Linked DNA regions of Homo sapiens: all the other regions are linked to region 2. Evidence: fine-mapped expression QTL. A gene starts in region 2. Each other region holds a variant in brackets. All regions are shown on one strand. Distances are between the middles of the regions.

Evidence for each region. PIP is the estimated chance that this variant, and not a neighbour inherited with it, causes the effect.
Region 1: its variant is the best candidate, but not a certain one, in a credible set for the expression of GNB5 in whole blood (TOPMed, PIP 0.71).
Region 3: its variant is the best candidate, but not a certain one, in a credible set for the expression of GNB5 in whole blood (INTERVAL, PIP 0.73).
Region 4: its variant is the best candidate, but not a certain one, in a credible set for the expression of GNB5 in stomach (GTEx, PIP 0.76).
Region 5: its variant is the best candidate, but not a certain one, in a credible set for the expression of GNB5 in lymphoblastoid cells (TwinsUK, PIP 0.64).
Region 6: its variant is the best candidate, but not a certain one, in a credible set for the expression of GNB5 in NK cells (Gilchrist 2021, PIP 0.85).
Region 7: its variant is the best candidate, but not a certain one, in a credible set for the expression of GNB5 in prefrontal cortex (ROSMAP, PIP 0.62).

Annotation. Positions count from the first base shown.
Region 1 is chr15:52,210,437-52,214,502 of GRCh38, reverse strand. MYO5C (myosin VC) reads left to right here. Exons shown (of 41, transcript NM_018728.4): 34 at 1,217-1,315; 35 at 2,619-2,773. Among named protein-coding and RNA genes, the nearest start is that of GNB5, 21 kb to the right of the region's middle. The variant C/T (reference allele first, on the strand shown) is at 1,956.
Region 2 is chr15:52,189,228-52,193,293 of GRCh38, reverse strand. It overlaps GNB5 (G protein subunit beta 5), which reads left to right and starts at 1,902. Exons shown (of 13, transcript NM_016194.4): 1 at 1,902-1,972. It overlaps MYO5C (myosin VC), which reads left to right. Exons shown (of 41, transcript NM_018728.4): 41 at 1-972. All of the region lies in intron 2 of CERNA1 (competing endogenous lncRNA 1 for miR-4707-5p and miR-4767), which reads right to left. RefSeq lists an enhancer at 1,305-1,804.
Region 3 is chr15:52,240,866-52,244,931 of GRCh38, reverse strand. MYO5C (myosin VC) reads left to right here. Exons shown (of 41, transcript NM_018728.4): 19 at 365-576; 20 at 2,719-2,884. Among named protein-coding and RNA genes, the nearest start is that of MIR1266, 34 kb to the left of the region's middle. The variant C/T (reference allele first, on the strand shown) is at 1,532.
Region 4 is chr15:52,029,887-52,033,952 of GRCh38, reverse strand. All of the region lies in intron 1 of MAPK6 (mitogen-activated protein kinase 6), which reads right to left. Among named protein-coding and RNA genes, the nearest start is that of MAPK6, 13 kb to the right of the region's middle. The variant CCCAA/A (reference allele first, on the strand shown) is at 2,362.
Region 5 is chr15:52,108,851-52,112,916 of GRCh38, reverse strand. It overlaps BCL2L10 (BCL2 like 10), which reads left to right and starts at 142. Exons shown (of 2, transcript NM_020396.4): 1 at 142-679; 2 at 2,944-3,654. The coding sequence starts at 191. The coding sequence ends at 3,069. RefSeq lists a silencer at 136-295 and enhancers at 2,464-2,533, 3,424-3,473. The variant GTGTGTGT/T (reference allele first, on the strand shown) is at 1,734.
Region 6 is chr15:52,116,792-52,120,857 of GRCh38, reverse strand. It overlaps GNB5 (G protein subunit beta 5), which reads left to right. Exons shown (of 13, transcript NM_016194.4): 13 at 1-4,066. Among named protein-coding and RNA genes, the nearest start is that of BCL2L10, 6.0 kb to the right of the region's middle. The variant A/T (reference allele first, on the strand shown) is at 1,790.
Region 7 is chr15:52,094,705-52,098,770 of GRCh38, reverse strand. The region is part of intron 1 of LOC112268150 (a long non-coding RNA gene); the gene reads left to right. It also overlaps the pseudogene RPS13P8. Among named protein-coding and RNA genes, the nearest start is that of BCL2L10, 16 kb to the left of the region's middle. RefSeq lists a silencer at 3,811-4,011. The variant C/G (reference allele first, on the strand shown) is at 1,531.

The DNA.
Region 1 (4,066 bases), 21 kb before region 2:
ATGATTCTCAAGTGGTGAGGTTTGTGACCTAGTGCTGGGCTAACGAAAGGATCCTTTGGGTCAGGAAGACAGCTCCCTCCCACTCAGATGATACCAGATACATTCATGTACTCGCAAGAGACATCCTATAATTAACACATTAACCTCTTCCTCTGTTAGCTCCCTTTTTTAAAAAATGAAATTGTGAACAATTTTTCAATTTACTGCTTTGAAATTCACCTTCTCTCCCTGTTACATATGTAGGATCAGTAAGTATCCAAATTTCTATTAGAAAAGTAGAGAGCTAAGAAGCAGACATCCTGAACATGGACTGCATGGCACACATAAAGCATCCTCGTGAGCCTCTGTGAAAGGGACCCTCCTCCCTTCTTCCCTCCTTCTGCTTCTGTCACTGAACTTTTCTGTGTTCAGCTCCTGCTCACATTTCTCACTCTTTCATTCTTTATTACCTTTTCCCCTTCCTCCCAGCCTTACTGCCAAGGCTGTATCTTGTTTCTTTTTCTATATTCATCTCTTTGAAGAGCAGCTTTATTCTTACTTATCCAACTCTCACCTCAAATTTGAAATGTCCACAAGCAAACTGAGGATCCCTTTCCTTCAGTAATAAATGACAAATGGCAGTCTGCCCCATGAGAGCAGGGCCCAGGTCTGTGCTTCCCAGCCCCCGCTGCATCCCCACTGCTGGGATGAATGAATGAACCATCATTCACCACCCTGGCTCACCTTTCAGACTTCTGACCTCCAGAGCTGTATGATTAAACATTTGTGTTGTTTTAAGCCTCTATGTTTGTGATAACTTTACAGCAGCCACAGGAAACTAATACAGCTGTCTCAGTAAGGATCATGCACATTGGTATTTTGCACACCAAATGTTTCACAAGTCTTCTTTCACAGTAGCATTGGCATCTTGAAGACAAGGCAACATCTTGGATTTCTTTCCTGTTACCATGTGCTGGATACATATCAGGCACTCATAAGGCTCTTCAAAGGATAATTGGGCCTTTTCAGCAGCAGCTGTACTCACTGATGTACTCATAAAGAGGAATCACTACTTGGAGAAATTCTTCAGGATACAATACAGTACAGTTTTAATGTATCTGAAAGCCACAGACATTTACGTGCAAACCAGCCAGAATGGGGTAGGAGAGTAGTCACATTGTGAGACCTGTGAAAGCTGCTTTTGTGTATTTAGCTGATTGTTTGCCTCTGTCTACAGCCAATGATGTGCACTCGTCCTCAGGACCCAAGGAGTACCTTGGAATGCTGCAATACAAGAGAGAAGACGAGGCCAAGCTCATTCAGAACCTCATTCTTGGTAGTGAAACCTGGAACTCTGGATTTTTGCTTTCTCTTTGAGAACTTGCATATCAGTCAGTGCCAAAGTCCTGGGCAGGGGTGGTCCTTTTTCTACTTTTTCTTCCACTGCTTCTTCCCCCAGCCCAGAGTTTCTCAACCTCAGCACTGTTGACCTGTTAACTCTGTGAATGGGGAGTAACAAAGGATGGAGCAGCATCCTTGACTTCTACTCACTAGAAGGCAGCAGCAACCCCTAGTGATGACAATAAAAGATATCTCCAGGTATTGCCGAATGTCCTGTGGGGGCCAAAACTGTCCTCAGTTGAGAACCACTGCCCTGACCTTTTCCAAATTGTAGGACCAGGGTAGAAGAGAAACATCACCTCATTTTTGTGTCTCAGCACAGGAGCCATCATGGAAGCAATTGTGGCTCTGTGCTCCATTTGACTTCTGAGAAATTTCTCTGCGGGCAATGTGATGGGGCTTCCCAGCCATGCCTCAGTTACAGGAATGTCCCATGTGCATGCTCAAGAGTTGGTGGTCATAGAACCAATCTTACTGCACTGTCTTCACTGTGACCTTCCACGTGGTTTTCTGGCATAGGGAGAAAAATCTGCCTCCCTGTCAGCTGGCCCCAAGATCTCAAAACAGAAAGCCAA[C/T]GTGTAGCCTTCCTTCCTCTTCTGCGAGTGACCCCCTTGGCTCATATGAGCACCTCTACCCTTTTCTTTCCCCTCATCACTGGTGTCATGCAGTGTGAGCCTCTTCTTTGTTCTTCTGTCTTCCTGCAGCCAGGGGACATCCTTGTTTGCTTATCTTAACTTTTTTTGTAAGATTTCTCTCTCCCCTTCATCCCCACTGAGCGTTTCCACCATTCTGTTCTCCTCAAGGCCAGCCAGGCATCCTCTGCTGCACTGGGTGTGCCTGCTTTCCCTATTCAAGGCAGCTTCATGTGACTGTGGACACTGTACGCCATCCTCATCAAAGCGCTTGGAGTAGGGGTGCATGGAATGGAGTTTCTTTCTTACAATGGGGGTCTGAAATCCAGGGTTTCCACACCAGGGAAAAATAAAGATTCTGTCTCTTATTCAACCTTTTAAGAAAGAGAAAGTCCTTTGTAAACAAGAAGAGGAACAAGTGACACCTGTGTATCTTGTGCCAAGAAAGGAGCCAGATGGAATTCCTCAAAGAGGAAATAAATCCATATACATTCAGGCACTGTGTCAAGCACAGAAAAGCAAACAAGCCCCTGCCCCTAGTCACAAGTTCCTTAGGAGAAGAGCTGACCTGTCAGCTGTAATCCTCATTGGCTCTCTCTGCTTCAGACTTGAAGCCCCGTGGCGTGGTGGTGAACATGATCCCCGGGCTGCCGGCTCATATCCTGTTCATGTGTGTGCGCTACGCAGACTCTCTGAATGATGCCAACATGCTGAAGTCCCTCATGAACAGCACCATTAATGGCATCAAGCAGGTGGTTAAGGTAGGAAATGCCTTTGACATTGGCCCCTGGTATCACATCTATGGGAATGACCAGATGCCCAGTCTTTGCCCATCCTGAGCCTCCATTGTGTGGTGAGCCACATGATTCCTCAAACAAGTTTGAGGCCCAACTAGTGAAGGGAGCCACACTGTTAGGGAAAGATAAATGGATGAGCATCTGCCATAGGCCTCAAAGCCTTACCGGCGAGACTGCAACCTGGTAGCCACTGCCCCACCACTGCTATCCCCTTAGGGTGTAAAGTTATCAGCTGTGAGGGGTATAGGTTCTATCTCTGTAACAAGGGTAAATCATGAGAAATGAAATGGAGTGAAAAATTATTCATCTCTTCCCTTGGCAATTATATAATTCTTCTTCCTAAAAGCACATTGTGTATTTTTATTCCCAGTCCACAAATGAAGATGAACTGTGTATTAGTTAGGTTAGTTACTTAGTAAAGTTAAGCTATTGTAGCTATGAGACACCTGCCACCTCCCTTTGCCCAATATACAGTGTCTTAAAGAAGATGGAGGATTTTTCTTTGCTGATAGCGGTTCCATAATGAGCCATCTAGGTTGGAAGGTGGCTCTGTTCCACGTGATCATGAAGGGACCCAGGTTCCTTCCAACTTGCTGTTGGCCATTCCCTAAGTCGGTGTCCTTATTGGAATGACTGGACAAGCAGGCAGCCAGCAGTTTACCACTGGGCAAGAGGGAACCTACCATAGGACACAGACCATGTGTGTATGGTATACATATCAGAAGTCACCAACTGAACTCTTTATGAGCAATCATCTCTTCATGGTGTGACAAGTGGATAATGATCAAAAGTGACAATGACAAAGGGCGGGATTTTGTGAAGGCTAACAGTAACATAAAGTTTATTGCTAATTTCCTTTCCAACTGAAACATAATCCTAAAATCATTCTTAGCATACTGATTATTTTTCCTGGAAACTCCATAAGTGATCAATGAGTAAATAACTGTATCTAAGCATTGAAGATTTTTTTAAGCAGACCTGGATCCTTGCTTACAGGGATAGTTGCTTTGTAAAAAGAGTTCTCTGGTAATGCTTGGCGCATTCTGGAATCTTGGGTGTGGGTAGGGTGGTTGACTTAGTTCTAAGCCAGACCTGGTGCTACCCTGAATGTGGAAATTCCATTAGCCACAGTGGAGTTAGTACAAAAACCTTCTCTCTCTCTCTTTTTCTAGGAAATGACCAGTTTACAGTTATGTTAAAAAGTACCCGTTTCTGGGAATTACAATGTACTGATCCATATTGGAAGGGGGCAATAAG
Region 2 (4,066 bases):
ATCGCCAGGCTGGAGTGTAGTGGCATGATCTCGGCTTATTGCAACCTCCGCTTCCTGGGTTCAAACAATTCTCCTGCCTCAGCCTCCTGAGTAGCTGGGACTACAGGCACCTGCCACCACGCCCAGCTAATTTTTGTATTTTTAGTGGAGACAGGTTTCACCATGTTGGCCAGGATGGCCTCGATCTCTTGACCTCGTGATCCGCCCACCTCAGCCTCCCAAAGTGCTAGGATTACAGGCGTGTGCCACCGCGCCCGGCTGACCCTTTTAATTTTTAAGAGTGTTCAATCCGAGATGAATCATTTGAAGTATTTTTATATGTATATCTATTTAAAACTAATATATTATTAAAGCTTAATTGCCATGCCGTTTATCTTCTCTGAAAGAACTTCAAATCTTACCTGCCAACATATTCACCATAATTTTTTTATTTTTTAATACCTTTCATACAATAACTTTTTTAAAACAACCTCAGATTGAAAAAGCAACCTAAATTACTTTCGCTCTCTAATCAGCATTTCAATGTATTTATTTTTAAATTTTCTCAAAAAGTAACTAAAAAATTGTGTCGGACCCTACTTTTGAGAAATCTACGTTTCCCAAGTTTTATGGGAACTGGCTATTCCTTGTCCCGGCACACCTTCTCATTCCTTCCTTTCAGAGCCTAAAACCTCATTTGATAAGCACTCCTAGTCTCTGGCCTGTGGATCCAGTGCTATTCTGTCACCAACCTAAGAATCCCAATTGCACCTTCTGTTTCTGACAGTCACAGGTGACAGCTGTGATTCTATAATACAGACTGGTGTCTTAGAGGTAGGAATAATACATGATTATGAAGCATCACCCTGCTAATACATAATAATGTCTTTTTATATTATAAGTGATTGAGTTTAGTTCATTTCAATACATTGTACATGAAAAAATGAAAAGTAGAACTTTGTAATACTTTAATCAATAAAATTAATTACCAAATGAATTGGGTCAGATTCTTTCATTGCGAGGAGATGACATGTCTCTTAAGTGTACAAGTTGTATGCCTTTCTTTACGGTCATACTGAAAGATGCTAGAATCTTTATAGATTCATAATATCTCATTTAAAGTATATTAAAATGTTTAGAGAAGAAGTAAATATGTCATAAGTGCTGGCTTAGGCTGTGTCTCCAGGGCGCTTCCACACTGTCAGAATGAGGGGCTACTTGGCAGAGAATTGGCAGGGTTTCTGATCCTGAGCTGCGGCCTCCATGCCCTTTCTAGACCTTCCCCACACCATGAGGAGCCATCACTGTTGGTTTTCGGCTTCCATAACTCAGGATTTATGCCTGTTTTATAGCACTTACCCTGGACTGGAAGCCAGAAATGCTGCCCATTTCCTCTGTAGGCCTGTGAGCCCCAGAGGGCAGGTGCCACATCCTCCTCATCCCTGCCTTCATCCTACTGCTGATGAGGTGGGAAGAGAACTGAAGGAGCAAAGTCCCGTTGGAGGACTGTGTGTGTGTGGTGGGGAGTCAACCATGGGAAAAAGTAGGTCATGTTTGGGGACAGGGAGACCTGTGGAGGCTGAGGAGTTTATGTGTGGAAAAATGGGGAAAGGGAGGCACTCATCCCACAGTCTTGATCAGTTCTACAAAGCTGACAGTGGCAAGGAGACCAAAATAGAGAAATGTTAAGAACATGTGGCCCAGGTGAATGTGAGGGCTGCTCAGTGAGTGGGCGCAGACACAGAGGTCAAACCTGCCAAGGCCTCCCTCCACAGAGGGGCTGGGCAGGTTCCAGGGGTGAGTGAGGGATGCAGATGGCAGTGCGTGCCCAGCAGGGAGCATGGAAGTGCTGTGGAGGAAGGAAGCAAGCTGAGCAGCACTCCAGAGAAGATAAGGAGATTAGCCAGTGGGAGACGTGCTTCACACCTCAAGCTGCGCGCTGGTCCTCACCTCTCACCATCTGCTCTGTGGCTCCCAGTGCTGACTCTGGAAGGTATGTGCATGCTGACATTCGGTTAAAATACTCCAGCTTTTGAAATGCTCAGAAAAGCATCCAGATGAGTACAGGGCACAGTGTTAGCAGGTCTTTCTGTGCGGTGGGAGCATGGGTGAGGGGTTTTGTTGTTGTTAATCCGTAGAATCTAATTTTTCTACAATACACATGAATTTATTTTGAAATAGTAAATTTCAAATATTTCAAATTGAAATATTTCAATATTTTTTACATTAATATTGGCATCAGGAAAGAGATTAAGCATACTTAAAATCACTAAGTCAGTTTTAAAATTTGATCCAGGTGACACATGGCAACATAAGCCTCTGAGTACAGCTTATGGGGTTAGAAAGAGGTTTTTAGTTGTAAGTCTGAGATACATCCACATTGTGTGTATCAGTTATTTTTTATTCTATGCTCATTTCACAGTTTCGTCTGTGACTGGTGAACATTTGGGTCTTTCAAGTTTAGGCCTTCTATGAATAGCTGCTATGACATTTATGTTTTTTTTTTTTTTTTTTTTTTTTTTTTTTTTTTTTTTTTAAGGAAATAAGCATTATTTTCTGTGGTGTATGTATGCACGAGTAGAATTGCCTGGTCATAGACTATATCCGTTTCACTTTAGTAGCTCCTACCAACCAGTTTTCTACAGTGGTTATACCGACTTATACTCCCACTAGCAGAGAAAGGCAGTTCCAGTCTCTGCATCCTTGCCCACACTTTGTGTTGTCAGGCTTTTTAGGTTTTCTGATGGCTAAGTAGTTGTATCACATCGTAGTTTTACTTTGTATTTCTATGATGACTAATGATAATGAGCACCTTTTTATATGTTTATTGACCATATAAGTATCCTCATTTGTGAAGTGACTACACAAGCCTTTTGTCCATTTTAAAAATAATCTTTGGGCTGGGCGCGGTGGCTCATGCCTGTAATCCCAGCACTTTGGGAGGCTGAGGCGGGCAGATCATGAGGTCAGGAGATTGAGAGCATCCTGGTTAACACGGTGAAACCCCATCTCTACTAAAAATACAAGAAATTAGCCGGGTGAGGTGGCGGGCGCCTGTATTCCCAGATATTTGGGAGGCTGAGGCAGGAGAATGGCATGAACCTGGGAGGCGGAGCTTACAGTGAGCCGAGATTGCGCCACTGCACTCCAACCTGGGCGACAGAGCAAGACTCTGTCTAAAAAAAAAAAAAAAAAAATTTATTGAGATATGATGTCCACGTTTTGTTTCATGTTTTAAAACCCATCATTTTAAAACATATATTTCAGTGTTTTTTAAGTTTATTTACAAGGATTTGCAACCATTGCCACTGACTCCAGAGTATTTTCATCACCCCGAAAAAGAAATCCCATACCCCTTAAGCAGCCACTCACTCTCAGCTCCCTCCTTCCCCCTTATTCTCTCTTCCCTCCACCTCGCAACTACTCATCTGCTTCATGTCTCTATGGATTTGCTGATCCTGTACACTTCATATAAATAAATCATACAATATGTGGCCTTTTGTGTCTGGCTTCTGTCATAGGATAGCGTTTTTAAGGTTTGACCATGTTGTAGCATGTGTCAGAACGTCATTCTTTTTTATTGCTGAATAGCAGTCTACTGGAGGGATAGACATTTTGTTTTTCATTTGTCGGTTGGTGGACACTTGGGTTGCTTTCACTTTTGGCTAATAATGCTGCCATGAAAATTAGTATGTACATTTTTATGTGAACATATATTTTCTTTTTTTTTGTTCTGAGACGGAGTCTCACTGCATTGCCCAGGCTGGATTTCAGTGGCGCGATCTTGGCTCACTGCAACCTCCATCCCCCAAGTTCAAGCAGTTCTCATGTCTCAGCCTCCCAAGTAGCTGGGATTACAGGCACCTGCCACCACGCCTGGCTAATTTTTGTATAGTAGATATGGGGTTTCACCATGTTGCCCAGGCTGACCTCAGGTGATCTACCCGCCTGGGCCTTCCAAAGTACTGGGATTACAGGCATGAGCCACCACGCCCAGCCAGTGAACATACATTTTCAAGTATCCTGGGTATATATCTAGAAGTAGGATTGCGGGGTCTTATGGTAACAGCTGTATATTTAAGTTTTG
Region 3 (4,066 bases), 52 kb before region 2:
TGAAGAGAACCCAAAATGGAGACAGAAAACCAAACTTCCCCAGTTTCTTCTACTCCAATGTGGAGACCACGAGAGAGTGGCTGAAGTTCTCTGGCAGCCCAACTGAGAATCGCCGCAAATGACACTCACTCCCCTTCTCACCCACAAATGGATTCCTCAGCCTAAGTCCCATTTCTTCCTCCAGGGTAATTTTAAACAAACAACTCAAAGTATACATTTCTAGATCATGATGTGAGTTTTCTGCCTTAAATGTCAAAATCACAATATTTCTGGCACCTTTGAATCCCTAAAGCTCTTTTCCAAATACTGTATTATAGAAAATCTGACAGATTTTAATTCTAACTATATCATTTTTCTCTTCCAGGATTCTAATCAGTACCAGTTTGGTAAAACCAAAATTTTCTTCAGAGCAGGACAAGTGGCTTATTTAGAGAAACTTCGATTGGATAAACTGAGGCAGAGTTGTGTTATGGTACAAAAGCACATGCGTGGCTGGCTCCAGAGGAAAAAATTCCTCCGAGAGAGACGAGCCGCCCTGATAATCCAGCAGTACTTCCGGGGTCAGCAAACTGTGAGGTATGTTGGAATCAAGGAACACATGTGGAACTGTGGGGCTTTCTGTGCTGATCATCTCCGGCGGGGAGGACTCATCAAGGACAAGGGACCTTTCTCCTGTGACCCAGGGTGCAGACGTGCATGGGTCCCCTTTGTGGTCGTGAGCATTAGGGCAAGAAAGGTCCGTCTCTCAGGGGCAGGTAGTGCTGGCTCTGCCTGGTGTCTGTGTGGTGAGCCGACACCCAGGGCCCTGCAGGGAGGAAGCGCTGGTGAGAGTGTTACTAAGGAGAGTCAGGGTTCCGGAAGCTCAGGGAGAGGCCCGGGGCCCCTTTCCTATGGGAACTGAAAATGCATAAGATCAGCAAGGCCCTAGTGAAGATCCAAAGGACAGATGTCAAGAATAGCCAGCGACCAGCCTGCCAGCAACAGGTGGGGTGCACCATGGCAGAGGGGGTCCCTGCAAGGCCTGGCAGCAAACCAATCACAGAACCCCTAAGCAGGAAGACCACAGCAGCCCCAGCCAAGCCAAGGGCTGAGGGGAGGGTGGTCCACCAGCTGCGCTGATCCTACCTGCCTCGAGGGGTCCTGAGAGTCCACACAACCCTGCCAGCCCACTGAAGGACCACGGTCATTCCGGGACTTCCAGGGCTTTGGTGTACCTGCTGGAAAGCACAAGACCAGGGTGCCCCTAGATAAACTTTGTGTTTCTCTCTGCCTGCTCTGCCCCTTCTTTGGGATGCTGTGAGGATGCTTGAGAAGGCCGGCGTTTAGGGTCAGGCTGCGTCTGCAAGCCTGACTTCTTCCTGAGCTGGAGGCTGAACTGTGGCAGCATCTGGCCTTCTCTGCATGACCAGCGTGGTGTGGCATGGATCACACAGCTGGGCTGGCTTGCCCTCCTGTGCTTCTGTGCCCAGTTGATAACAGCAGTCTTTGGGGAAGGAAATCACAGTTATCTTACCCGCCAAGGCCACGCTCC[C/T]TTCCCATTTGGGGCTCACCAGAGCCTGATCATCCTGCCCTGCTGGCCTCCTGCCTATCCCATTCATTTCATCCCACTCCTGCCCCCAGTTTAGGCTCACGGCATCACCTGCCTTGCACTCTGATGGCACCGTGCTCCACCTCCCACCTCCTTCCCATCTTCCTACATCAGAGCCTGATTGAGACACTGCCCTGCACCTGCCTTTAAGGCCCGTGTTTCCTACAGAATAGCATTCAGTCTCTGACGTGATATTCAAAGCCCTCCATAGCCTGGGTGCATTCATAAGAATGGAAGCTCCATGAGGGCAGGGGCCACACTTGTCTGGTCATTCATACCCAGACCTAGCATGGTGGCTGTCATAGAAGGTGTTCAACAAATATGTTTTTAAAATAACAAATGGTGCACATCTATTTTTCTAACCTCATTGACGTCTAATTTTCTTCATCCATCTTATTCTAGTGATTCCAAACAAACTCCTTTTCTGAGTATTTCAGGCACTGTAGAGCCTCCATGCCTTTACTCATGCTGGTCCCTTATCCTGAAAGCCTTTTCCAGCCTTCACTGTGTACAGACATCCTACTGCATTGGGGGCTGGCTCACATACCCACTTTCCCCAAGCAGAATAACTGTTTTTTTCCCCTCTCACTTACAGATCTAGTTAGGTGGTATTTTATTTTTCCTCTTTCTTGGCCATTTGTTAGTCTTTCTGTACATGAGGTTGTAAACTCTAAAGGTAAGGACATTATCTTCACCTCTAGTCATTTAGACAGGGGCAGCAAACTTTTTCTGTAAAGGACGAGATGATAACTATTTAAGGCATTGGGGGCTTGCAGTCTCTCCTGCTGCTGTGTCATGAAAGCAGCCGTGGGGGATATGTAAATAGTACGTGATTGAGCAAGTGCAGCACCAGTGCACAGTCTCATCATCGTCTCTGTGGGTACCTGAGTGGAGGTGAATCGACTGGCCTGAATGAAAAGAGTGAAAGTTCCCATGTGGTTCCTCAAGGACAGGGAACTGGGGACTGGCCTCAAGTAGGCATTAGAATAAACTGCCCACAGAGTTTAATGTGGAGAGGTGTAAAATATTTGAACCTTCCTTATAAACACATGCTAGCCAAGCTTGCAGCTCTGTTATGGAAGTTGATGCTCTGTGGGTAACAGACTCACTCTTCATCCTTGTTAACCAAGGAAAGCTATTACTGCAGTGGCCTTAAAAGAAGCTTGGGCAGCCATAATCATTCAGAAGCACTGCCGCGGGTATCTTGTTCGCAGCCTGTATCAGTTGATTCGCATGGCCACCATCACAATGCAGGCCTACAGCCGAGGATTCCTGGCAAGGAGGAGGTATCGAAAGGTGAGGCCAACCTCTGTCTAGAGGAAGGGAGGGTGTACGGGCCTTCCTTACTGAGAACAAAACAGGGCCCAGGGAAAGACTTCACTATGGGCAACCTCACTTTGTACAAAGTGTCAGCCAAGCCAGAAAGGAGATTCTTCCAGGTGCTGTGGCTCATGCCTGTAGTCCCAACTACTCAGGGAGCTGAAATGGGAGGGTTCCTTGAGCCCAGGAGTTCGAGGCTGCAGTGAGCTATGATCATGCCAGTACACTCCAGCCTGCGTGGGTGACAGAGGGAGACCCTGTCTCTCTCTCTCACACACACACACACACACACACCAGTTGCACTGTTGGTTTCTCTTTCTCCCAGTTGGCCCCAAAGAGACCACACCAAAGGAAAGTACATTTTAAGCCAATAATGTGCACCTAACAGACAGGATATACACCTAACAGACCTCACCTAAAGCAGAGACTGGGTTGGGGAAAGAAATTTTAAAAGATCAGCACACTGGCTGGGCACGGTGGCTCACACCTGTAATCCCAGCACTGTGGGAGGCCGAGGTGAGTGGATCATGAGGTCAGGAGATCGAGACCATCCTGGCTAACACAGTGAAACCCTGTCTCTACTAAAAATACAAAAAATTAGCCGGGTGTGGTGACGGGCACCTGTAGTCCCAGCTGCTCGGGAGGCTGAGGCAGGAGAATGGCATGAACCCGGGAGGCGGAGCTTGCAGTGAGCCAAGATTGCACCACTGCACTCCAGCCTGGGTGACAGAGTGAGACTCCGTCTCAAAAAAAAAAAAAAAAAAAAAAAAAAAGATTAGCCCACTGCCACCCCACAGACTGTAGAGAGCTCTCACAGCCAGATGGGATGTCCAGGGTGTCCAACTCCAAAGAAACGAATTCAAAGTAATATAAAATTGAACAAGTTTTCTACATAAGCTATTCAAGATTTCTCCAGCACTGACTAATACAAAGCACAATGAGATGGCTCTTTTAGAGGCAGCAGCTTTAGACTCAGAAAAGGGTGATGAGATGAGTTTCATACGGCAAAAAAATAATTTTCTTTCTTTCAAGGAGGGAGGAGAGCAATAAGTGTTCACTTCAACATAAGGGGTGCCTGATCCATCCTGTGAGTGGATGGGAAAGGGGTTGAGATAGGACAAAAGTTTGGTCTCAGAGATTTCACAATCTTAATTCGGT
Region 4 (4,066 bases), 160 kb after region 2:
AGGGAAAAGAGATAAAGTATATACTGGAGAAGAATAATAAGAATGATAGCTGATTTATCACTAGAAACAATGAAAAACAGAAGACAATAGAATATGTTTTAAGTACCAAAAGAAAAAAAAAACTATCAACCCAAAAAGAAAATAAGGAAAAAATAAAATAAAAAACAAAGCCTATTAACCCAGATGTATTAGTCACACTTCTCCACAGGGACAGAAATAATAAGTTTTATGTATATATGAAAGGGAGCTTATTAGGGAGAACTGGCTCACACAATAACAAGGCGAAGAAGTCCCACGTCAAGCCGTCTGCAAGCTGGGGAAGAAATAAGCCAGTAGTGGCTCAATCTGAGTCCAAAAGTCTCAAAAGCAGGGAGGCTAACAGTGCAGCCTTCAATCTGTGGCTGAAGGCTGGAGAACCCCCGACAGACCACTGGTCTAAGTCAAGAGTCCAAAGCCCAAACAATCTGGAGTCTGATGTTCAAGGGCAGGAGGAACAGAAGGAAGCATCCAGGACGGATGAAAAATGAAAGCCAAAAGACTTAGCAAGCCAGCTTATCCCATCTTCTTCCACCTGCTTTGTTCTAGCCTCGGTGGCAGCCAATTGGATGGTGCCCACCCACACTGATGAGGGTGGGTTTTCCTCTCCCAGTCCACTGACTCAAAGGTCAGTCTCCTCTGGCAACACCCTGACAGACACACCCAAAAACAATACTTTACCAGCTACCTAGGCATCCTTCAATCCAATCAAGTTGACACTTAATACTAACCATCACACCAGAATTCTGTATCTAAGAGAAATAACCTTCAAAAGACCTTTTCAAAGAAAAGACAAAAGTAGAAAGATGCCAGGTGCCGTGGCTTATGCCTGTAATCCCAGTTACTTCTCAGGAAGTGAGGTGGGATAATCACTTGAGTTCAAGACCAGCCTGACCAACATAGTGAGACCCTGTCTCCATTAAAAAAAAGGAGGCCGGGCGCGGTGGCTCACGCCTGTAACCCCAGCACTTTGGGAGGCTGAAGCGGGCAGATCACCTGAAGTCAGGAGTTTGAGACCAGCCTGACCAACATGGAGAAACCCCTATCTCTACTAAAAATACAGAATTAGCTGGGTGTGGTGGCGCATGCCTGTAATCCCAGCTGCTAGGGAGGTTGAGGCAGGAGAATCACTTGAACTTGGGAGGCGGAGGTTGCAGTGAGCCGAGATTGTGCCACTGCACTCCAGCCTGGGCAACAAGAGCGAAAGTCCGTGTCAAAAACAAAAAAAGAAAAAAAGTATTTAAAAAAACTGGATAGAAATCTGTCTCCAGCAGACTTTCACTTCAAGAAATGCTAAAAGAAGTCTTTTAGGATGAAAGAAAAATACACCAAATGTAACTAACCCCAGATCTACAGAGAGGAATAAAAAACTCAGAAAGGGTAAATATCTCGAAAATATAAAAAGTCTATTAAAAATATCTATCCACGGCCAGGCACAGTGGCTCACGCCTGTAATCCCAGCACTTTGGGAGGCCAAGGCAGATGGATCACCTGAGGCTGGGAGTTCAAGACCAGCCTGGCCAAAATGGAGAAACCCCATCTCTATGAAAAATACAAAATTAGCTGAGCATGGTGGCACATGACTGTAATCCCAGCTATTCGGGAGGCTGAGGCAGGAGAATCGCTTAAACCAGGGAGTCGGAGGTTGCAGTGAGCCGAGATTGCACCACTGCACTCCAGCCTGGCAACAGAGCAAGACTCTGTCTCAAAAAAAAAAAAAAAAAAAAAAATTAAAAATTGTTGGGCTGGGCACGGTGGCTCACGCCTGTAATCCCAGCACTTTGGGAGGCCGAGGCAGGCGGATCATGAGGTCAGGAGATCGAGACCATCCTGGCTAACATGGTGAAACCCTATCTCTACTAAAAATACAAAAAAAATTAGCCAGACGTGGTGGTGGGCGCTGCAGAAGAATGGCATGAACCCGGGAGGCAGGGCTTGCAGTGAGCCGAGATCGTGTCACTGTACTCCAACCTGGGCAACAGAGCGAGACTCCGCCTCAAAAAAAAAAAATTATTTGTTCATATTATAAAGAAAGTCACAGCACTGAACATGAAAATAAAATGGTGAAATTTTTATTTTATTTATCTTGAGACAGGATCTCGCTTGCCCAAGCTGAAGTGCAGTGGCATGAACATGACTCATTGCAACCTCCACCTCCATTGCTCAAGGTGGGTGGACCATCTCAGCCTTCTGAGTAGCTATGACCACCGTGCAAGGTGCCACACCCGGCTCAATTTTTTATTATCTTGGTAGAGACAAGGTTTCCCAATGTTGCCTATGCTAGTCTTGAACTCCTGGGCTCCAGCGATCCTCCCACCTTGGCCA[CCCAA/A]AGTGCTGGGATTACAGGTGTGAGCCACCACGCCTGGTCAACATTTTACAAGAATATAAGCAAGGTTTTATTGAGACTGTATTATGTGTGAAGCATTGTGTTGGACATATACCCTTACACTAAATCCTCCCAATAGGCAAAATAGGCAAAATATAATCTTTATTTTAGAGAACTTAAAAAACACATTCAAGATCACACATGAATGAGAGAGCCAGGATTTGAACCAGGTTTGTAAACCAAATTCCATTATCTCTCACTGTAACTTATTTTTTTATTGACAAGTATAGTACATATCTCCCTTCACTCCCCAACCTTTTGAGTAGAGTATATTTCCTATAGACAAAGACCTTCTTCTGGCTGGGGGCAGTGGCTCACACCTGTAGTCCCGGCACATTGGGAGGACAAGGTGGGCGGATCACTTCAAGTGAGGAGTTTGAGACCAGCCTGGCCAACAGGGGGAAACCCTGTCTCTCTACTAAAAATACAAAAATTAAGGCCAGGCATGGTGGCTCACACCTGTAATCCCAGCACTTTGGGAGGCCAAGGCGGGTGGATCCTTTGAGGTCAAGAGTTTAAGACCAAACTGACCAACATGGTGAAACCCTGTCTCTACTAAAAATACAAAAAAATGAGCCAGGCATGGTGGCACATGCCTGTAATCCCAGCCACTCAGGAGGCTGAGGCACGAGAATTGCTTGAACCCAGGAGGCAGAGACTGCAGTCAGCCGAGATCACGCCACTGCATTCCAGCCTGGGTAACAGACTGAGAGCCTGTCTCAAAAAAAAAAAAAAAATTAGCTGGGCATGGTGGCACACGCCTGTAGTCCCAGCTACTCGGGAGGCTGAGGCAGGAGAATCCCTTGAACCTGGGAAGCGCAGGTTGCACTGAGCCAAGATTGCACCGCTGTACTCCTTCATCCTGGGCAACAGAGTGAGACTCTGCCTCAAAAAAAAAAAAAAAAAAAAAAAAAAAAAAGCCTTCTTCTGCATAACTAAAACACAACCATCAAAATCAAGAAATTAACGCTGGTATAGTACTACCATCTGATAATCAGGCCCCATTTAAGTTTCTGCAATTATCTCAATCATGTACTTGGGAGGTAAAGGACCCAGTCCAGAATCACGTTACACTGGGTACAATGCAATTATTATGCAGTTTTTCCCTTCTGAGATTTAAAGGAATCAAACATTTTATACAGTCCACAAAAATTTACTGAGCACTTAGCATGTGCCAGGCACTGTTTGACAATATAGTAGAGAATAAGACAGACAAGGTTCTTCTGCTTCCGAAGAGCTCGCATTCTAGTAAGGAAAGACCAACAAACATGTTAGCTAATTAACAAATTCAGATTTGGCCTAGTAGCTGGGAAATGGCCCTCTGAGGAGCTGAAACCTGAATAAGAAGCTACCAGCACTGCTAAGAGATGGGAGAAGGGCATTCCTAACAGAGGAAACAACAAATTGAACAAACCTAAGGCAGGATAAAACTTGGCATTTTGGAGCAAAAGAAATGCCAGTGTAGCCACAGCATCCACAGCAAAGGGCAAAGGAAAGGAGGTAGCAATGAGGAAGGAAGGAACACATGAGGCAGGATTCTGAATCTCATAACTAAGACCAAAGAAAAACTATGAAACCATTTTAAGCAGGCAATCTACATTATTTCATTTACATTTCTGAAAGAAGATTCTTGTTACTGGGAGA
Region 5 (4,066 bases), 80 kb after region 2:
GCCTTGCCTTGGGGACTGGAACAGGTGCAGGTGGGATTCCCATCAAAGGCTCTTCTCTCAGTCCTGAAAAACAATATACCGGGGGCCGGGGGCCGGGGGCCGGGGCGGGGCACGGCAGCCCTACCCTGGGGGAGGCGCGGCCGGGCCAAGAAAACCAGCGAAGGCCCGGCCCCCCAGCAGAGGCCGGACCATGGTTGACCAGTTGCGGGAGCGCACCACCATGGCCGACCCGCTGCGGGAGCGCACCGAGCTGTTGCTGGCCGACTACCTGGGGTACTGCGCCCGGGAACCCGGCACCCCCGAGCCGGCGCCATCCACGCCCGAGGCCGCCGTGCTGCGCTCCGCGGCCGCCAGGTTACGGCAGATTCACCGGTCCTTTTTCTCCGCCTACCTCGGCTACCCCGGGAACCGCTTCGAGCTGGTGGCGCTGATGGCGGATTCCGTGCTCTCCGACAGCCCCGGCCCCACCTGGGGCAGAGTGGTGACGCTCGTGACCTTCGCAGGGACGCTGCTGGAGAGAGGGCCGCTGGTGACCGCCCGGTGGAAGAAGTGGGGCTTCCAGCCGCGGCTAAAGGAGCAGGAGGGCGACGTCGCCCGGGACTGCCAGCGCCTGGTGGCCTTGCTGAGCTCGCGGCTCATGGGGCAGCACCGCGCCTGGCTGCAGGCTCAGGGCGGCTGGGTGAGCACGCGGCGGACACCGGGACACGGGGCGGGACGGGCAGCCGGGAAGCGCCCACGAGGCTGGCACGGTGAGGAACCCACCGCGCCAGGCCCCTGGAACGAGGTTTCGTGAAAGCAGAAAGGCTCGTTTCAGCGGGCCTGGAACGTTCGCTGTGAAGTCTGGGGTTTCTCCTCCCCTGGCAGAAAGGCCGGCAGAAATCGGCCTTCTTAGACGGCCGTGAACCGTTCCGAAGCAGCTGCGCAGGCTTAGGTCTGCTCACTTGGACCTTGCCCTGGCCTTAGCCGTCGGGGACTTTTAGGGGGGCACCCACGTTAGGTCTGAACGTTTTGCTCCTATAGAAATCCCCAACCAATGAAGTCAGCAATGGCGGGGCCCCAGCCAGGTGGGGTGTTTTTCTCCTTCGCCTATTAAATGCGCCTTTGGAGAGACTCAGACCCATTGATCACAACCCCCTACGCCTCTCAGCCTGGCCAGAGAGGTTGTGGAGTGTGGTGGTCGCCCAGTGGTGGCGCTGACCCAAGGTTCCTTAATTTCTAGTCCTCTGCACCCAGTCCTCGGTGAGAACGTTCTAGGCCCCTGGCTTTCAGCTGCAAGCCTTCATCTCTGTGGTCAAGGTTAGAGGGACAGGCCCTTGCCCTGCAGCTGATGATCAAGGAAAGCCACCTGGTGATGAGCCCACTGCATGCCTCTGGGGGCTCTGAGCTAGACCCCATTTCTTTCCCCACCACCTTATTGGCGTTGATTCAATGACTGAAGTGGCCCATGTTATCGGATACCTATAGCCAAACTATTAAAACCAGCAAGTTTTTTGATCCGAAATGTAGCCTCCTGGGGGCAGTTTCCATTTAGACCTTTTTCTTTTTTTCTTTGAGGCGGAGTCTCGCTCTGTGGCCAGGCTGGAGTGCGGTGGTGGATCCCAGCTCACTGCAACCTCTGCCTCCCGGGTTCAAGGATTCTCCTGTCTCAGCCTCCGGAGTAGCTGGGACTACAGGCGCGCCCCACCAAGCCTGGCTAACTGTGTGTGTGTGTGTGTGTGTGTGTGTGTGTGTGT[GTGTGTGT/T]GTTTTCAGTAGAGATGGGCTTTCACCATGTTGGCCAAGATCTCGATCTCTTGATCTCGTGATCTGTCTACCTCAGCCTCCCAAAGTTCTGGGATTACAGACGTGAGCCACCTCACCTGGCCCCCATTTAGACTTTCTATAGTGACAAGTTGGGTTCTATCTGAGAAGGGAAAGGGAGTGGGAGGTGTGTTAGCAGGAACTCCTGCCTTGTTCATAATGTTAGTGTTGGTCTTCAACCCTCTGGGCCGGTGAACTCCCTTCAGCTGCGTGCCTAAGAGCCTCACCTGAGCCCTGTCTCAATACGGCATCTGGCCCCTCCGGGCTCTCTGTACCTGAAGAAGAGATTAGAATTGGAAAGGGGCCGTTGAAGCCTTTTTTTGTTGTTTTTGGCTAATCACTGTTGATGAAAGAATAATCTCTTAACACCAAGGAGCTGAAATTCTTGGCTGGGTGCAGTGGCTCGCACCTGTAATCCCAGCACTTTGGGAGGCCAAGGCAGGTGGATCACCTGAGGCCAGGAGTTCAAGACTAGCCTGACCAACATGGTGAAACCCCCTCTCTACTAAAAATACAAAATTAGCCAAGCACGGTGGCAGGTGCATGTAATCCCAGCTACTAGGGAGGCTGAGCCAGGAGAATCGCTTGAACCCAGGAGGTGGAGATTGCAGTGAGTTGAGATCTTGCCATTGCACTCCAGCCTGGGCACCAAGAGCGAAACTCTGTCTCAAAAAAAAAAGCTGAAATTCTCAAATTGGGTAAACATAGTTCACCCTTGTCTCTGCCCATTGCAGTTAAAATGCCACAGCCTGGAGTTCAATTCCCTTCCTAAATGGGGTTGGTGCTTGCTGTAGTGTCAGGTGATAACTTTTCAATCTAGTGACTTGACAGTTTCCCAAAAGGCATCTCTTCTTTGCTCAGAAAAGAGCATAATAAGCTACCTTCCTCTTGGTTTTGAGTCAAGATATGAGTGTTCCTGCACCAAGTGACAAAGTTAAATGCTTGCTTCTGTTCACTCTGTTAGACTTACCAATCCTCACTCCTCAGGGGCTCCTCATTACTGGATGTGTATTGGTCAGAATTTCCTTTCCTTTTACTTTTTAAATCCAAACTTTACTTTGCTGTTTAATCTGGAAGTTCCTGCGTGTTTTGAGTGAGGTTCTCAGCATCATGAGGCAATCTAACTTTTCTCTCTCCCCCCTGTAGGATGGCTTTTGTCACTTCTTCAGGACCCCCTTTCCACTGGCTTTTTGGAGAAAACAGCTGGTCCAGGCTTTTCTGTCATGCTTGTTAACAACAGCCTTCATTTATCTCTGGACACGATTATTATGAGTTTTAAAACTTTTAACCCGCTTCTACCTGCCCAACTGTGACCAACTAAATGACAGATGTGTGAGAACAAGAACTGAGGGAAAGCACCTTCCCCCACCCCAGACGTTTTTATCTGAATGCATACAAGGAGTCCTGAGGTGGTGATTTGGCCAGTGTTTTAACTTGTGACAAGTACTCAGGTGTGAGGACAAGAATGCAAATGGCTCTTCCTTGAGTGAAAGAAATGGGGAGTCTAGAGCCTCTTTATGCCAAAGAACCGCAGAAGAAACTGCATTCCATTAAATGGGAAATACAGTGCTATTTGCTAAAACTTGGATAAGAGTGCGAACCTCTCATCTCTCCACAACTTCATGTGCTGCTGACTAATTTTAAACATGGCCACAGCTGGGGCAAAATAATCCCCAAAGTAGAAAAAGTCCCAGTTTAACAAAGAATGTAATGTTAAAATCACTTATAAGGAATTCTTTGAAACCAAATCCTTTGAAATCTAATTCCTGGGACTTCTAGGTTTTTATAGTTAACATACTAATTTCTTCAATAATTGTTAACTGCAAAGTTTTAATAAATTTGTACCTTTAAAAAAAACTTAGTTGTCTTTCCTAATTCAATAAGCGTTCATTCTTAGGAGTAAGTAGAATTGATGACAATTTGTTTTTATTGTCTCCTTAAATATACATGTAACGGTGCTTGACTTTTTTTTTCCCCAACACTTAATGCACAAGCTCAAAGTCCCTCCTTCCTCTCCCCCTTCCATTCTGCAAACTGTCACCCACCTGCAAGGTGGTTGACAGCATGATTCCCTGCAGGCCTTCCCACTCATTATTATACTTGCATTTTATAAAACTTAACTGGACCTGCTCTTTTGGCTTAATCTTATGAGGTCTTTCTCTCCAGAACATGCAGCTCTGCCTTACTGTTTGGACTGTTGCAGTGCATTCTTATCACAGGATATGCTAATTTAATTACCTTTTCACCGCTGTGTATTTCAGGGTGTTTC
Region 6 (4,066 bases), 72 kb after region 2:
GCCTTCCTCCAGGGAGCCCAGAGAGAGTGCTTTTTAGTCCCAGTAGATTCCAGTCTGGGCAGGGGCTCAGGAAATGGGCCCAGTGTCTGGCCAGCTCCTGCCAGGTGCTGAAGGGGTCAGGGCACCATGGGATTCCTGAGCTCTGCTCCAGAATGTCCCACAGTGGCCCCTGGTGCAGCTGGCCTCCTTGTGGTGGCATCCCCAACCCTCTCTCCCACAGCCATTTTTTTTTTTGTCTCTGCACTGTGCCTTCCGGCTCCCAGAAGTGCAGGAAGGCACGAGAAAGGAAGGAAAGGTGGCCCAGGGAAGCACATTCCAGGTTCCATGTTTGGAGAGGTGGAGAGCATCTTCAGGATATGTGCAAAGTAGACTGTGACTTTCCAATCCAAAAAGCCACTTTAAGGGCCCAGGGAAAGTATTCCAGAGAATGCTTCCACTCCCCGCATGGGCAGGAAGCCTCCTTCGCTGTGAGCATGCGCTCTCGCAGTGGGTGCTGTCGGGATTTGCTGATGAGATACTTGATTTGGACTATGTGACAGCATGTGGAGACTCAGGGGTAAGCTCCATGGGATAGATTGTATTTTGCAGATTGAAAATAATGCTGAGTGCATTTTATAATCAGCTTTTCTTTTTTCCAGAGGACTTGGGGATAAACCTACCAAACCAATTGTGGTGAAGGGGCCAAACAGATGGGCCCCCAGGGGTGTAGAGCCTTGGGCAGCCCCCTCCTGGGCCAGAAAAAAGAAAGTTCAGGCAGAAAGGTGTGGGTGATGGGTATTTATGGGAAATATCTGTGACATGAAGCCAAGTCCAGTGCTTTAGAATGCGCGGTCAGCCTCTCACCGGTGGGGCCCTGGCAGCCGTCCCTCTTCTCCCAGGCGAGCCAGAGGTGGGCATCCCGTTGCCACTGCCCTCTTCCCGCTCTTCTACCTCCTTTGCACCCTTCTCTAGGTTATAAGTGGCTTAAAACAGCACAGGGTTGTAAGGGCCTTTGTGTCCCGGGCTCTCATAGTTGCCAGGCCAGCTGGCTGAAAGGTGGCACCACCGATACTGGGACTCCTCTGTGAGTTAGAGGGATGCCTTGGTGACATAAGAGGGCTGGCCTTCATTCACACCCACCTCTGTCACGGTCACAGAATATATGATAATATCTGAGTTTTTCTCAGCCTCAGTTTCCCCATTTGTAACATGGGATGGGACTAAAATATGTAAAGTGCCTACCTCAGCCTTTAGCACATCTTCAGGAAGGGTTAGTTCCCAGCTTCTCCCTGTGTCCTCCTCAGTCCCCTTCCTATTTGCCCCCCTCCCTTCTCCCTCCACCTATCTTCCCTCTTTCTCTTCCCTTCCCCTCCTCCTCCCTCTCTCCTCCCTCTCTCCCATTTCCCCCTCCCTCCCTCCCATCTCCTCCTCCCTCCCTCCCATCTCCTCCTCCTCCCTCCCATCTCCTCCCTCCCATCTCCTCCTCCCTCCCATCTCCTCCTCCCTCCCATCTCCTCCTCCCTCCCATCTCCTCCTCCCTTCCTCCTGTCACCCCTCCTCCCTCCCTCTCATCACCTCCTCCCTCCCTCCCATCGCCTCCTCTCTCCTTCCTATCTCCTCTTTCCTCTTCTCTGCCCCCTCCCCCTCTCCTCATTCATCCGGACTCCTTTTTCTAACCCTTCTCAATCTTCCCCCATTCCTCATCTCCTCTTCCTCTGTCTCCCTGTTCCACCTCTCTCCTGGTCTCCTTCCTTCCCCTTCTGCTGTTTCTCCCTCCCTCCTCCTCCCTTCCCATTCCCCTTCCCCCAGC[A/T]CTTCCTTTTCTCCCCATCTCCTCCCCATTCCCCTTCCCCCAGCTCTTTCTTTTCTCCCCATCTCCTCCCCATCCATAGGCAGCCCCCACTCATATAGCAAATTAGTAATTCTCATCAGTTAGAGCTTCGTCTGGGCTAGTGGTTCTCAAACTTTTTGGTCTTAGGATCTCTGTACACTTTTTTTTTTTTTTTTTTTTTACGTGGAGTTTTGCTCTTGTTGCCCAGGCTGGAGTGCAGTGGCGCGATCTCGGGCTCACTTCAACCTCCGCCTCCTGGGTTCAAGCGATTCTCCTGCCTCAGCCTCCCGAGTAGCTGGGATTACAAGGCATGCACCACCACGCCCGGCTAATTTTGTATTTTTAGTAGAGACCAGGTTTCTCCATGTTGGTCACACTGGTCTCGAACTCCCAACCTCAGGTGATCCTCCCACCTTGGCCTCCCAAAGTGCTGGGATTACAGGTGTAAGCCACCGTGCCCAGCCTACACCCTTAAAAGTTATTGAGGACCCCAAATAACTTGCTCATTGTGGATTGTATCTATCCATATTTATTGTATTAGAAATTAAGACTGAGAAAAAGTTATAAAACACAAGAATACAGATGCACACGTTCCATTAGCCATCAAGGTGATCTTTCTCCCATGCCAGTAGTCTCTGGAAAATTCCTGAGAGGATGAAAATAAAAAAATCACCCATACAAAAAAAAAAAGTGTCAATATTATTATGAAAATAGTTTTGACCGTGAGGACCCCCTGAAAGGGTCTCAGGGACCCTCGGGGGCCCTGGATCTTGCTTTGAGAACAGCTGATCTGGGCTAATGAGCCCTTTTCCAGCCCCTCTGTGTGAGACCTCCCAGAAACCACTAAGGGCCTTGGAAGAGCTTGGCAAAGAAAGAGGTGACAGGATGATTGAGGAGAGCCACCCTAGGGAAAGCCTTCAGAGGAGGCTTTGGGACAGCCCCGGTCGGTGGAGGAAGTCCCAGAGAGGCAGTCGGAAGGGCTAGGGACCAGCTGAGGCCTGTGACCTGAAAATCCTTTCAAAAGAGGACGCCTGGAAGCCTGGGGAAGGCACAGTGGGTGGGGTAGAAGACTGGGGCTGAGGCCCAGGCCATTCCCAAGCCTGGAAGAGCTGATTGAGTGGGGATTTGTAGATCTTCATTTCCCAAACTTGCCTGCTGAGAAGAATCGTCCCACCCATGGCAGGTTCCTGCACTGCGCCTTCAGGGCCCTGCCCTGAGATCTGGACTGGGCGGGCCTGAGGTGGGCCAGGAAATCTGAGCCGGAGGCCCACTGGGGAGGCCGCGAGTGAATCTTGTCTCTGTGGATCCTTTGTAAGGATTGCCATGCTAAACCACTTGCCCTCTCATCCGTGACCGGAGAGAATTGGGTCACTCTTCCAGACATACCACAGACTCCTGCTTCTAGACAGCACTTGGCTGGAGCCAGGCTGGCCTTCAGGGTTGGTCAGTCTCCACAGGGGACTCTGGCCTCCCGTGGGCTGCCACAGGGCCAACCCCAGTGAAAGAAATGAAATGACTGAATATGTTCATGTCATTAGAAAAAGGATGCAGCAGGGGGTGGGGAGGAGTTGGTTAATGGAATCAAATTTGCAGCAAGATAGGAGTCTAGTGTTTGGCGGCACTGTAGGGTGACTATCGCTAACAATAATTTACTGTGTATTTTCAAGTAGCTAGAAGAGAGAATTTTGAATGTTCCTGTCAACCTAAATAACAAAGACAGGCTCGCTAAAGATATTTAATCAAAAGTAGGGCATTGCAACAGGAATATGTGTGCTGTAGTAAACTGTGTGCATATTCCAGGAGGTAAAGAAAAACAAAGGTGACTGGGCGCGGTGGCTCACGCCTGTAATCCCAGCACTTTGGGAGGCCGAGGCGGGTGGATCACGAGGTCAGGAGATCGAGACCATCCTGGCTAACACGGTGAAACCCTGTCTGTACTAAAAAAAAATATATATATATATTAGCTGGGCGTGGTGGCAGGTGCCTGTAGTCCCAGCTGCTCGGGAGGCTGGGGCAGGAGAATGGCATGAACCCAGGAGGTAGAGCTTGCAGTGAGCCGAGATGGCACCACTGCACTCCAGCCTGGGCGACAGAGCGAGACTCTGACTCAAAAAAACAAAGAAAAAAAAAAAGAAAAACAAAGGTTTTTAAAGGAAAAAATGAGGAGGATTACATAATGGTTTTGAAATAATTATCCTTGGCTACAAATATCAATAACAAAGGTCACACCAGTCCGAGGTTGGACAGGCAGTTGCTAGG
Region 7 (4,066 bases), 95 kb after region 2:
ACTCAGGCTTTAATAGTTGACTTTGGAAGAGGAGGGTATCTGCGTCTTTAGACACCTTGCACACAAGACTTTTGGTCTTTAAAAATGCTCAGATTTTTGTACTTTGAGAGGTAAGACCCCTTCATTTCAATATGGTTGAAAGTTACATTTCTTTTTAAATCAAAATCATAAAGTTATCTGATTCCTCTGGGGAAAATGTACAAAGAGATCTGATAGTGTTCGGTAGTTGCGCAACCACTTACTTGGGTCTTTGGTCTTGAAGGTTTAAATTATCTGGACTTTAGCTTCCTCACAGTGGTTGTAAAGTTGAAATGCACTCATATGAAAACTACCAGCTGTCATTAGTATTTCAAAATGGGAAGAGACTGGATTTTATTTTAAGACACTTTAGGAAACAAGTGTTGGCCATTTCTATATTTGTGCTGTAACAAATACACCCAAATTCCCTAAAAAAAAAATGGTTCTTCCTCACTCAAGTATCATTAAGTACATCTAATAATGTATTAGGCAGCATGGTTATTAGCAGTTTAAAAAAATGAGTTGTCCTTTTATTCCTTATGTATTATTTATTGGATATTTTATTTAGATTTCTAAACATGGAGGATGATATGTTTAAAGGTGGTGTTCTTGTAACCAGTTGTAAAGCTACTTAGTTGAATGAAATTTGAATTTCATGGTTGTGTTTTATCTTTACCCACTTTTCTGTAAGAGGCCTCCACTGGCCAAATTTGGGACAATGTGAGCATCAAATAGATAATAGGAAAGGATTAGAACCCACTGATAGCATTGGCTCATGGTTTTGTTTTTTTAACTAATATAAATAAGTGAAAGAGGAAACCCTTTCTCCAAGGAGTCCTGGTTCCTTTTAGTGGCCAGTGGTATTAACATCTGAGCTGCATTTTACTTTTATACATCTGTATTCATTTGACCTTAACATTTTTATTTTGTTAGCAAGATTACATTTAATGAGATAAAACTTAGTGTTTTATCTTTATTATCATTTTTATCAGAAAATTACTTGTATCAAATTTGATAATAGGAAATCAACTATTCTTTTTTTTAATGTATTTGCAAATAATTGAATATGTGTTTTAAAGCTTTAGTTTAAAGCATAAGTAGTGCTCATTTTTTTCAGTTGGATTATATCTTGTCCTCCCTGTTTTCAAATTCTATTGAAAAGATCTATTACAGCTCAATAATCAATAGTAGCATTAACACACTGGAGGTGGGGGGGGGTCCCATCAGCAATGTGGAATTTCCAGATTTAATGTCAATGGGAGTAAACTGACAATAGAACCCAGCTAGAGGGATCTCTAGCCCACTTCAGGCAATAAAAAGCACCTCTCAAAAAAGTGAAAGTTTTCTCTTACAAAATGATGGAACAATGCCAAGATGGGAAGCAGCAGTCCCCAGCAGTTGGCTGGGCCAATCTTCCACCCCACACATCTTAGCTCTAGCTATTAACTGACCCCAAGGATCACCAGATATTGAAAGAAAACTAATTGCATGGGAGAAGTAACAGACTCAGCA[C/G]AAAGAATACTCTCAAGGATGCATAATCAAAGAAGAAACTAGAATAAAACTCTAAAGGAAACATGGATATCTCAGATTTGGAAGAATCTCCAGCCATTTTTTTTTTTAATTTCTGTCATTACAGTTCTTGGAAATCAAAAGTATTGCTGAAATAAATTTGCTGGGCATTATTTTTCTTCTTCTTTTTTTCTTTTCTTTTCTTTTTTTTTTTTTTGAGACAGTCCTGCTCTGTCACCCAGGCTGGAGTGCAGAGGCACGATCTCAGCTCACCGCAACCCTCACCTCCCGGGTTCAAGTGATTCTCCTGCGTGCCACCATACCCAGCTAATTTTTGTATTTTTGGTAGAGATGGGGTTTCACTATGTTGGCTAGGCTGGTCTCAAACTCCTGATCTCAGGTGATCTACCCACTTCGGCCTCCCAAAGGGCTGGGATTACAGGCGTGAGCCACCACACCCAGCCTGGGCATTACTTTTATAACAACTTTTTATTAAAGTATATTTTGGCCAGGCGTGGTGGCTCACCCTTGCAATCCCAGCACTTTGGCGGGGCTGAGGCGGGTGGATCACCTGAGGTCAGGAGTTTGAGGGCAGCCCGGCCAACATGGTGAAACCCCACCTCTACTAAAAACACAAAAATTAGCTGGGCGTGGTGGCACGTACCTGTAATCCCAGCTACTCAGAAAGCTGAGGCAGGAGAATTGCTTGGATCTGGGAGGTAGAGGTTGCAGTGAGCCGAGATCATGCCACTGCACTCCATCCTGGGTGATAGAGCGAGACTCTGTCTCAAAAAGTAAAAATAAATAAAGTATCTTTTAAGGTGGTTTTTTCTTCCATGGTTTTTGCAATTTAAAAATTTAGATAAAATTTATATAACATAAAACCATTTTAAATTATACAACTCAATGATTTCTAATATATTAACAATGTTATCCAACCATCATCTTTAATTCCAGACACTTCTGTCATCTCATAAAGAAACCTCATACCCATTAGGAGTCACTCCCAATTTCTCCCTTCCCTCACCTTCTGGCAACCATTAACCTACTTTTTATCTCTATGGATTTGCCTATTCTGGACATTGCATATCAATAGAATCAGACAACACATGGCTTTTTGTGTCTGACTTTTTTCATTTAACATAGTGTTTTTATGGTTTGTCCACATTGTGGCATATGTCTGTACTTGATTCTTTTTTTATGGCTGAGTAATACTCCGCTATTTGAACATACCAAACTTTGTTTATCCATTCATCAGTTGATGAACATTTGGGTTGTTGCACTTTTTGGCTATTATGAATAATGCTGATATGAACTTTAGGCTTTTGTGTGGACATGTTTTTAATTCCATCTAGCAGTGGAATTGCTGAGTCACATGGTAACTCTGTTTAATGTTTTGAGAAACTACTAACCTGTTTTTCACAGTGGCTACGTTATTGGGTTTTTTTGTTGTTGTTAAGCAATCATTTTATTGCTTGAGTACATAGACAAATTTATGCTACCAGGGCAGAGGCTGTAGATGATTCATATTTCCAATTGGGAGGGAGGACTCGCTTGGTCTTGTAATATCGAGCCAAGTGGTGAATCCAGCTCTCTATCAGAATCAGATGGAATTTAGCATTCTTATCCTTTCTGTTCCTCTCAAGATGCTTTTGAACAGCAACTGCTTTCTTAATTAAATGGTAGAGATCTTCAGGGAGATCAGGAGCAAGTCCCTTAGACTTAAGATTTCTTAAGATTTTATTGCCTGTCACAAAACGTACTTGTGCAACACTATGTCAGTCTCTCAGGATCACACCAATTTGTGAAGGAGTCAGGCCCTTCTTGGCCACTTAGTAAATCTGCTCCTTCACGTCATCAGATGTCAACTTCAGCCAAGTGGGGATGCTGTGGCGATAGGGCAAAGCCAACCGGGACGGGCCCTTCCCAGGAGCATGCATGCGACCCATGATGGCGGCAGTCAGGCAGTGAAGTGTGGCCACGTTATTAAATGTTCCCACCTGCAATGTAGGAGGGTTTCACCTCCTCCCATGTTGAAACCTCAGGATTCTCAAGGAGAAAGGGAAAGGACTCACCAGGCAAGACCTGGAGAAGAAACACCTGTGCCTTTAAAATAGAGAGGACGGGTGACTTCTGGCCACTTGGCTTTCCTGACACCACACGGCCACCCACCCTCTCTTGCCAACACCACAGCTGAAGGGCAGGGCAGCCATCCTAGACTAGGTCAGAGGTCAGCTGCGCTCCATCCTCCCTCTGCCTCTTACACAGCCAAATGGTGCTGCTTCTAACCCTCATCACTCAGCTGCTTCTCACCCTAAGGCCTCCATCTGGCACTGTTTGCCATCCAGCTGCTGTTCCAAGTTCTGCTCAGGTAGCTAACAGTGTCACGTTTCTAAACCATGCCTTTTGTAATATTTGAAACTCAAAGGAATTGAAAATGTGGGTGACGGTAGTCAGTAAGAACCCAGAGCCAAAGCACTACAGTCCCCATGTAATTAAGCATTCCCTTGGGGGCTGGGTTCGTCCATCAACCCCCTTG